Linked DNA regions of Homo sapiens: region 1 is linked to region 2. The links come from fine-mapping of genetic effects on gene expression. A gene starts in region 2. The other region holds a variant in brackets. All regions are shown on one strand. Distances are between the middles of the regions.

What was found. PIP is the estimated chance that this variant, and not a neighbour inherited with it, causes the effect. A credible set is the group of variants that fine-mapping cannot tell apart.
Region 1: its variant is the best candidate, but not a certain one, in a credible set for the expression of BEAN1 in tibial artery (GTEx, PIP 0.74).

The regions. Positions count from the first base shown.
Region 1 is chr16:66,500,009-66,505,378 of GRCh38, forward strand. No RefSeq gene overlaps it. Among named protein-coding and RNA genes, the nearest start is that of BEAN1-AS1, 26 kb to the left of the region's middle. The variant G/C (reference allele first, on the strand shown) is at 2,976.
Region 2 is chr16:66,424,220-66,429,589 of GRCh38, forward strand. It overlaps BEAN1 (brain expressed associated with NEDD4 1), which reads left to right and starts at 3,076. Exons shown (of 5, transcript NM_001178020.3): 1 at 3,076-3,212. RefSeq lists an enhancer at 3,904-4,504.

The DNA.
Region 1 (5,370 bases), 76 kb after region 2:
AAAACTGGAAGCATTCCCTTTGAAAACTGGCACAAGACAGGGATGCCCTCTCTCACCACTCCTATTCAACATAGTGTTGGAAGCTCTGGCCAGGGCAATCAGGCAGGAGAAGGAAATAAAGGGTATTCAATTAGGAAAAGAGGAAGTCAAATTGTTCCTGTTTGCAGATGACATGATTGTATTTGTAGAAAACCCCATTGTCTCAGCCCAAAATCTCCTTAGGCTGATAGGCAACTTCAGCAAAGTCTCAGGATGCAAAGTCTCAGGATACAAAATCAATGTGCAAAAATCACAAGCATTCTTATACACCAATAATAGACAGAGAGCCAAATCATGAGTGAACTCCCATTCACAATTGCTTCAAAGAGAATAAAATACCTAGGAATCCAACTTACAAGGGACGTGAAGGACTTCTTCAAGGAGAACTACAAACCACTGCTCAATGAAATAAAAGAGGATAAAACAAATGGAAGAACATTCCATGCTCATGGGTAGGAAGAATCAATATCATGAAAATGGCCATACTGCCCAAGGTAATTTATAGATTCAATGCCATCCCCATCAAGCTACCAATGACTTTCTTCACAGAATTGGAAAAAACTACTTTAAAGTTCATATGGAACCAAAAAAGAGCCCACATTGCCAAGTCAATCCTAAGCCAAAAGAACAAAGCTGGAGGCATCACGCTACCTGACTTCAAACTATACTACAAGGCTACAGTAACCAAAACAGCATGGTACTGGTACCAAAACAGAGATATAGACCAACGGAACAGAGCAGAGCCCTCAGAAATATTGCCGCATATCTATAACCATCTGATCTTTGACAAACCTGATAAAAACAGGAAATGGGGAAAGGATTCCCTATTTAATAAATGGTGCTGGGAAAACTGGCTAGCCATATGTAGAAAGCTGAAACTGGATCCCTTCCTTACACCTTATACAAAAATTAATTCAAGATGGATTAAAGACTTAAATGTTAGACCTAAAACCATAAAAACACTAGAAGAAAACCTAGGCAATACCATTCAGGACATAGGCATGGGCAAGGACTTCATGTCTAAAACACCAAAAGCAATGGCAACCAAAGCCAAAATTGACAAACGGGATCTCATTAAACTAAAGAGCTTCTGCACAGCAAAAGAAACTACCATCAGAGTGAACAGACAACCTACAGAATGGGAGAAAATTTTTGCAATCTACTTATCTGACAAAGGGCTAATATCCAGAATCTACAATGAACTCAAACAAATTTACAAGAAAAAAAACAAACAACCCCATCAAAAAGTGGGCAAAGGATATAATAGACACTTCTCGAAAGAAGACATTTATGCAGCCAAAAGACACATGAAAAAAATGCTCATCATCACTGGCCATCAGAGAGATGCAAATCAAAACCACAATGAGATACCATCTCACACCAGTTAGAATGGTGATCATTAAAAAGTCAGGAAACAACAGGTGCTGGAGAGGATGTGGAGAAATAGGAACACTTTTACACTGTTGGTGGGACTGTAAACAAGTTCAACCGCTGTGGTAGTCAGTGTGGCGATTCCTCAGGGATCTAGAACTAGAAATACCATTTGACCCAGCAATCCCATTACTGGATATATACCCAAAGGATTATAAATCATGCTGCTATAAAGACACATGCACATGTATGTTTATTGCAGCATTATTCACAATAGCAAAGACTTGGAACCAAGCCAAATGTCCAACAATGATAGACTGGATTAAGAAAATGTGGCACATACACACCATGGAACACTATGCAGCCATAAAAAATGACGAGTTCATGTCCTTTGTAGGGACATGGATGAAGCCGGAAACCATCATTCTCAGCAAACTATCGCAAGGACAAAAAACCAAACACCACATGTTCTCACTCATAGGTGGGAACTGAACAATGAGAACACATGGACACAGGAACGGGAACATCACACACTGGGGCCTGTTGTGGGGTGGGGGGACGGGGGAAGGATAGCATTGGGAGATATACCTAATGTTAAATGACGAGTTAATGGGTGCAGGACACCAAGATGGCATATGTATACATATGTAACTAACCTGCACGTTGTGCACATGTACCCTAAAACTTAAAGTATAATTTAAAAAAAAAATTAAAATTAGCCAGCCATGTAGTCCCAGCTACTCAGGAGGCTGAGATGGGAGGACTGATTGAGCCCAGGAGCTCAAGGCTGCAGTGAGCCGTGATTACACCACTGCACTCCAGCCTGGGTGACAGAGTGAGACCCTGTCTCTTAAAATAAATAAATGGAAAAAAAAAAGAACAGGCTGATCTGGAGGCAGAGCAGGTCAGCAATCTCAGGAGGATGAGGCAAGAGGTTGCGTCAGCTTGGAACCATGACAGCCACTCCAAGGCATATCCCCCAGGGCACCTGACCTGCAGCAAAGGAACCTGGGAGAGCAACTTAGGCCAAGGATTCCAGGGGCAGGAAAGGCGAGCTAATTATTTTTTTTTTATTCATTCTTTTCTGACCATTAACATAATAAGCATGCTTATTCCAAACCAAAACAGAACTTTTGCTCTCTCCACTAAGCCTGCCGCTCCCGCATTCCCCATCTGGGTAAATGAGTCCACCATCCACTCACTCACTCCAATCCAATGCAGACATCACCCTTGACCAACATATATCTCTCTCTCCTCTCTCTTTCCTCCTCCCCCCGCTCTCTCTCTCTATCACATCCTTCATCCAATTCCTAGCTCCTCTCTTTCACAACAGAGTCTGAATCCAACCCCTTCCCCCCTCCTTCCACAGTAACCAAATTCACCATCCTCTCTCACTCACGTCCCTGGAGGCTGCCAGCCTTCTGCAGCCTGTGCTCCACCCGAATGCTGGAGGATTCCGTTAAACCTACATTAGGGCTGTGCGTGGTGGCTCATGCCTGTAATTCCAGCACTTTGGAAAGCTGAGGTGGGAGGACTGCTTGAGTCCAGGAGTTTGGGACCAGCCT[G/C]GGCAACACAGAAAGACCCCGTCTCTATATATTTAAAAAATAAAATAAAATAGAAAATGTTAAAAAAAACAAAACAAAACAAAAAAAAACCACCTACATTTGATCATGATTCTCATGTGTTCAGTTCCCTCCAGGGGTGCCCGAGGCCATATCAAGTCCCAGGCTCAGCCCCTCACTTTCCCTCTGAACTCATCTCAGGTCCCTTCCCCATTGTCCGCTGTAGCCAGAGCCACCCTGGCTTCTGCAAGGTTCTGGAACATGCTGAGCCTGGCCCTATTCCCAGCCTCTGCACAGACTGTTCCCTCTGCTCTGTCTCCCTACCCTACCCTGCCATGTTCTCTTCCTTGTTATTCACATCTCCCCTTAAATGTCACCTTCTCAGAGAGGCCCCCTCTGACCATCTATCACATCAGCTTAATTTTCTGCACAAAGATTTTAATTCATGTATTCATTTTCCATTTCCCCCCATTAGAAGATAAGCTCCATGAGAGATAAACTTCATCTTGTCTCATTCACCGTTATTTCCAAGGATCCACCATATTAAACCATCAAATGAGTAGAAAACTTAGAAAGTACAGATGAATATGAAAACGAAAGCAAACCTTACCATAATTTCCACCATTCAGCGATACCCAATGTCACCACATTCCTGCAATTCCTCCCAGTCTTTTTTCTATATACGCATATATTAAACATTTGGGATTGTAATATTTACAGTGTTGTGCTCTGCCTTTATTTCCCATGAAGGGCGTTATTCTAACTAATTTTAGATGGAGAGAAAAGTTGCAAAATAGTACAAAGAACTCCTTTCCACTCCTGGCCCTGCTTCTCCTAAAGTTGACATCTTACGTAACCATAGTATAATGATCAAGAACAGGAAATTAATATTGATACAATGTTCTTAACTATACTACAAACCTTATTTAAGTTTCCCCAGTGTTCCATTAATATCCTTTCTCTATTCCAGGAGCATATACAGGATCCCACATTGCACTGAAGTTGACATCTTATGTAACCATAATATAATGATCAAGAACAGGAAATTAATATTGATACAATGTTATTAACGATACTACACATATTATTTAAGTTTCCTAGTGTTCTATTAAAATCCTTTCTCTATTCCAGGAGCCCATCCAGGATCCCACATTGCATTTGTATATTTTCCTTTGTCTCCTCCAGTCTGTAATAGTTCTTGTTTTTTCCTTGTCTAACACGATCTTGATGCTTTTAAAGAGTTTTTTCCAATCAGTTATTTTGTTGAATGTCCCTCCATTTGGGTTTGTCTGGTGCTTTCTTAATACTGGAGTCAAGTATGCATTTCTGGCAAGGATACCACACCAAAAAAACAAATGATGCTGCCAGGCATGATGGCTCACACTGTAATCCCAGCACTTTCAGAGGCCAAGGCAGGCAGATCACTTGAGCTCAGGAGTTCAAGTCCAGCCTGGGCAACATGACAAAAGCCCTATTCTACAAAAAATACAAAAAATGGCCGGGCGCGGTGGCTCACGCCTGTAATCCCAGCACTTTGGGAGGCCGAGGCGGGCGGATCACGAGGTCAGGAGATCGAGACCATCCCGGCTAAAACGGTGAAACCCCGTCTCTACTAAAAATACAAAAAAATTAGCCGGGCGTAGTGGCGGGCGCCTGTAGTCCCAGCTACTTGGGAGGCTGAGGCAGGAGAATGGCGTGAACCCGGGAGGCGGAGCTTGCAGTGAGCCGAGATCCCGCCACTGCACTCCAGCCTGGGTGACAGAGCGAGACTCCGTCTCAAAAAAAAAAAAAAAAAAAAAAAAAAAAATTAGCCAGCCTGGTGGCACACACCTGTAGTCCCAGCTCCCCGGGAAGCTGAGGAGGATCACCTGAGCCCAGGAGGTCGAGGCTGCAGTGAGCTGTGATTGCGCCACTGCATTCCAGCCTGGGTGACAGAGTGAGACCCTGTCTCAAAAAAAAAAAAAAAAAAAAAAAAGATGCTGTCCTCAGTGCATCTTTGTAAAGGCTTCATGATGTCACTACGTCTTATTACCTTAATCACTTATTAAGCTGGTTTCTATGGGGTTTCCATCTCCACTGTCAAATTAGTTAATTTCTTTCCCTTTTTACTTGATAAGTATATTAGGGGAAATAGAAACTATGCAAATCTTGTTTTTCCTCAAACTTCTGTCCACTAATTTTAGTATCAACAGGTAAATCTTGTCTGTGATTTTATATATATATATATATATATTTTTTTTTTTTTTTTTTTTTTTTTTTTTTCCCTAGACGGAGTCTCCCTCTGTCACCTAGGCTGGAGTGCAGTGGCACGATCTCGGCTGACTGCAAGCTCCGCCTCCTGTGTTCACGCCATTTTCCTGCCTCAGCCTCCAGAGTAGCTGGGACTACAGGCGCCCGC
Region 2 (5,370 bases):
CCCTCCTAAAGGAAGACAGAAGGGGCAGCCTGGCTGTGTTAAGCCGTTCTTACATTGCTATAAAGGAATATATGAGACTGGGTAATTTGTAAGGGGGTAAAGCAAAGACATTTCAAAGAAGGAAGGATGGTAGGGAGGTACAAGCTGATCAGGCCCAAGAGACCCTTCCAACATCTCCATGCCATGGGCTCTGTTTGGGATGAATGACATCATGGATCCTGTTCTTTGCAAACAGAAAAGACGTTTTTTGGGATTCCCTGTGAGCGGCTGGGGTGACATGAAGCACACTCTAGGGCAAGCCCCAAAGCCCAGCACTTGGGGACTCTTTGGGCATCTCACTGTCCTGAGATCTCACTTCCTGATTTCCCTCAGACTCTTCCCTCCAGCATCCCTACCTATCCCTAGGCCAAGCAAACACTAAACACCACTGTGCCTCCCTGGTACCCAGTAGATGCCCCTTCTGCAAATCTGACCCTACACGAAGAAAGCCTCAAAACTATGACATACCTAGAGACATAAAGGATAGTCATGGGCATGCACAAGCCTCCCCATGAAGATGTCCGTTGCAGTGTTGTTTAGAAGTATGAAAAATGGAAACAAACTAAATGCTCAGAAATAGGGGACTGGTTAAAAAAATATGTGCAATACAACCATCTGATCCTATGCTAGGTAGCCACTAAAAGTGTGACATAGGAGAGGAGATATCAGTCAGCAAGCTCACTCCATTTAAGGACTCTTGTAGAGTTACACAGGTAAAAAGAAAGGAAAACAGGAAAGCTCAATATTCACAATGACTGGATTTTCTTTTCTTCTTTTTCCTTTTGTATTTTCCAAGTGCCCTACACTAATATATATTTGTGGATGGATACATAGACACACAGAGATTGGTAGGCACGCCGTCATAAGCCAGCTCCCTGAAACTACACCCAACACCACTGGAAAACAGTCCTGGTTCCAGTCTGAGGAGCAAGCCAGATTTGCCAGGCCAGTGATGCACAAATAGGGGAGTGGACGGGAATTAACTCTTTAGGGCTAGGACCTTCCGCAAGGACTCACTCAAAGTGTGCCACACACACTTATCCCTGGTCCCCCCACCCCCACCACAACACACACACACACAAACACACAGAGTCTTGCCAAAGGGGGCAGCTTACAGGCAAAACCACTCAACAACTAGAATATCCATCCTGGAAGGGTCAGCAGGTGTCCTCAGAGAGATCAAGGTTATACCGTGGGCACAGCCCTAGCTTGGGAGTTGTAGAGCCTCCAATCCTACCTCTTTGACCCTAGCCTATCCCCTCCTTTCTCTGATCCTTCATTTATTCATTCATAAAATAAATGCATGAGGTTGGACAAAGGGTCTCTCAGGTCCCCTTCCTCGGTTCTCTGAGAATTGTTTCCCTTTATTCTAGCCTCATCCCTTACTCAGAGCTGATGTCCCCGTGACAGCCCCAGCCTGCAGGAGGGCGGGGAGTGGGGGCGGGGGGGGGGCGGTAAATAGTGCAGGGAGCAGAGCCCAGAATGAACAGTTACCAGAGGAGGCTGGGAGATGTCCTCAAGCACCCAAGCCCTAGACCACGCAGCTTCCCCTGCCTGGCCCCAGGGAAGCCCAAGACGTGATGACTGGCAGGGCTGGGGTTTGTTTTCTCCACCGGAGCCTGCTCTGCCCCATCCTCCCTGCAAGGCCAGTCCCTGGCCAACTTTCCCTTCCACAACATCCCCATGGCTTCACTGCTTCCCCAAGGTTTAGCATCAACATGTTCAGCCCTTTGTCACCATGCTTTATTTTTGAGAACCACTTTCCCGCCAGTGACAAGCCTTTGGGTTTTGAAACGAACCCAGCTTTTGACTCCCCTTGCCTCCTAAGCCCCAGTTTCCTCATCAACAGTAGTGGTTCAGAGAGTGTTAGCAACAACACATTTCATCAATTCCTGCAGCAAATTCACTGAGTGCCCACTCTGTGCAGACCCCTGCAGCCCTACCCAGACGCTGCCCTCCTGGCGCTCCCAGGCAAGTGGCGGAGGTTAAATAAATAACTCCTCCACGCTGGCGAGCACCCCAACACAGTAGGGGTGCAATCATTGGGAGCAATATCCTAATGAGGACAGGGAGGCCTGAGAGATGGGCTGGGATTCGTCCAAGGCCCCAAAGCAGGGTGGGGACAGAGCAGGTCCTGGAAGCCTGGAACCCCGGCCTGAGCCAGGCATCCCCTCGGGGCCGGCTTCCACCTGCCAGGGCTGAGCCCTATGCCCTGACGTTTGGGCAGCGGGGAACGGGGGCACAGGGAGGGTGACGGGGTGAAGGAAACAGGCCTGCTGGTGGCTCCGAAGGAAGGTTTGGGCCAGGCCTAGCTGGAATCCCAAAACTCACCTGCCAGCAACCGCGAGCGGGAAGCCCTGCCAGGCTCGCCTGCCCCTGCCAGCGGCCCAGCCACGCTGGGTCCCCCTCTCCATCCCGCACTTTGCTCTTTGCCCGCGACAGGGGTCCCCTGCTCAAATGCCCAGCCTAGCCTCGGTCCAACCTGTCTGGCTGTCCTTCCCTGACACCTCGTTTGTCTACCCTTCTCTGCACGTGTCAGTGGCTCCCCGCTCGCGTCCGTGTGTCATTCCCTACACACGCCTGTGTGTCCTCTTCACACGTCTGACTGGAGCGTCGGCCTCCCGCATTTCCCGGCCTCCTCGCCGCCCTGCCCCGCCTGCTGCTGTGTGGGTGTCGGGCTGGCTGTGCGCAAAGGGGCGCGGCTCGGCCCTCCCCCGCACCCGCGCCCCCCGCCCCGCATCTCGGAGTGACCCGGGCCGCGGCGCCGCGGTGCTGAGGCCCGGGAGCCGCGCCGCCGCCGAGGGGGGCCGGGGCCGGTGACGGTGGCGTGGGCGGCGGCGCGGGGACGACGGGCGGCCGGGCGGGGCTGCGGCAGGGCAGGGCCAGGGCCAGGGCCGGGGCCTGGGAAGCCGCCGCCGCCGCTGCCTCGGCCCGGGATCGCGGGCGGCTGGTCGGCCCGGCTCGCCTGGCCCCGCCTGGCCCGCCCCGCCCCGCCCCTGCGCGCCCAGCAGGCCGAAGCGTAGCGGCGCGCCCCCCGCGACGCCCGAGCCCGAGCGCAGTGGCCTCCGAGCGGGAACCGGACTGGGAGCCGGAGCCGGGGCGGGAACCGGAGCTGGAGCCGAAGCTGGAGCCGGCACTGCGGCGCACGGAGCGGAGCGCTGCAGCCAAGCCGAGTAAGGGGCGTGGGGCTGGGCGGCGCGGGGGAGGGGCGGGCGGGGGGTCCCGGCCCCATTCCCCCGCGCTCTGCGGTGGTACCGGCGAACGACACACCCGGGGGCGCGCCGCGCGGAGCCTCGGTGCGCGGGGCGGGCGGATGCGCGGTCCGGAACGGAACCGCAGCGCGCTCGGAACGGAGCGGGATCCCGGGTCTCCCGCGGACCCTCGACCCCGGGCTGGCCACTGGGATCTGCGCGAGCCGAGGCTGACCCTGATCGCGCCCTCGGGCCTCGGGGAAGGGGAGGTATCCAGGTTTTCTGCCTGACTCGAGTCCCCGACGAGCATCAACCGCATTTGGGGAACCCAAGACAGCCTCCCCAGCAGCTTGCCCTCGGTTTCGGGGACCCCTGAACAACCCAACCAAGAAGGGAAAACTAGGGCGCACTCTCGGTCGGGGTGGGAGAGGAAAGGGGCTGGGGCTTCACGGAGTTTGGAGTTTGAACCCACCCGCACCCCTTTGAGCTAGGAAGTTTGACCCTTCGACGAGCAGGTCGCCTGGGGTATGCCCCTGTCTCCGTGCCTCTGTCTCAGCACCGAGCGTCGGAGAGAGAGCGCGCCCTCCGCACCTTCTCCCACTTTGGGACAGACTTTCCCTTGCGCTGTCAGAGGGACCCGAGGCTGAGTACGAGGCGAGGCGGCAGGCAGCTCAGGCTGGCTGCGCAGCGCTGAGTGGCACCGCCGCCGCTCCCCAGGGGCAGGGCCCACCCCACACCCGGCTGACTCTCGCTGCCCTTCCTCCTTCCCTATCGGGCTCTGCGGTCTGGAGGCTGGAGAGCGGTGAGGACCAGGGACTGCCCTGTCCATCTCGGGCGGGTGCCGGCGTGGGTGGCGGGGCGCAGGCTGGGAAAGGGAGGGCGCAAGTAACTGGTGTGAGAGGCAGGGGTTCAGGGATCCTTGCTCTTGAGCCACGATTTCCGATGAGCCCCTGCCGAGAGCATGCCGCTCTGGACTCACTCCTCAAACATAACTGCTCTGCTGGAACGAGAGACTTCACCACCCTGTGCCTCAGTTTCCTCATCTGAAAGTAAGCAGGAGTCTGTTGTGAGCGGGATGTTTAAGGGATTTGGAACCAGAAGGTGGGCTTGGCTGACTTCCTGGCTGTACAACCTTAAGCAAGACACAAACCTCTCTGAGCCTTAGTTTCCCCATCTGGAACATGGGGAAGGTGAGTTGGGAGGATTAAATGAGATGATGCTGGTGAGGGTATGTAGCCTGGTGCCTGGCACGCAGCCAGTGGCCAATTGTGGTGGGCTACAGGTGTCCTGAGGTGTCCAGCACCAGTAGATGCTGAGATTCAGTGCCTCTGAATCTGAAGTGGTGCTCCCAGCCCCCTCCAAGGAGGCCTTTGAATTCCCCAAGCTGTTGACATTTAATTGCAAAGCAAAACTTTCTCCTTAGGGCCCACCCTTTCTCAGACGCTCCCTCCTCCAAGGCTCTCTACCGCCCAGCCCAGTTCTCCCCTGCTACCTCCCATCTCTCTCCAGGGTGAAAAGGCTGCATCTGACTGTAAGGTGCACCCTTTTCCTCCTTGCCCTTAGCTGATGTCCGCTGCCCCAGAGAGGGGCACCCACCCATTGCTCGAGCTCCGTACAAGGGAATTTAACACCTCCCTCCACTCCCGGGTGGAGGATTGCTTTCCCTGAGGAGCCATCAGGCTGTCAGGTGGCTTGGACACACCGATGGTGACGGTTCAGACAGGCAGCAAGAAGCACCAGGGAGACAGCCTAGAGGTCTGAGGGGTCCCAGCCTTGATTCTTCGCAGACTATGATGTATTCGTCCAGGCAACTGGGCCATGAGGCACCAGAAATGAAGGATGTCGGGGAGGAAATGGAGCCAGTGATTGAGAGGTTCAAACTTCAGAGCAGGGTGTCCCCAGGAAGGGATTTGCTCCAGTCTGTGTGGCTGGGACCTTAGACCCAGAGCAGAGCAGGGCATAGGCCCAGGGGATAGGGGAGGATGCTGGGATCCTGGAGGTGGCAAGGAGCGGGTGGGCGGGCAGGAGTGATGGGAAGAAAGCAGTGGTCCAGTTCACACCCATGTTGGTCCCTGGCCACCTGTGCTGTGTGGGTGTTCTGGCCCAGCTGCCCAGAACAGGGATGGGGGAGGAATCTCAG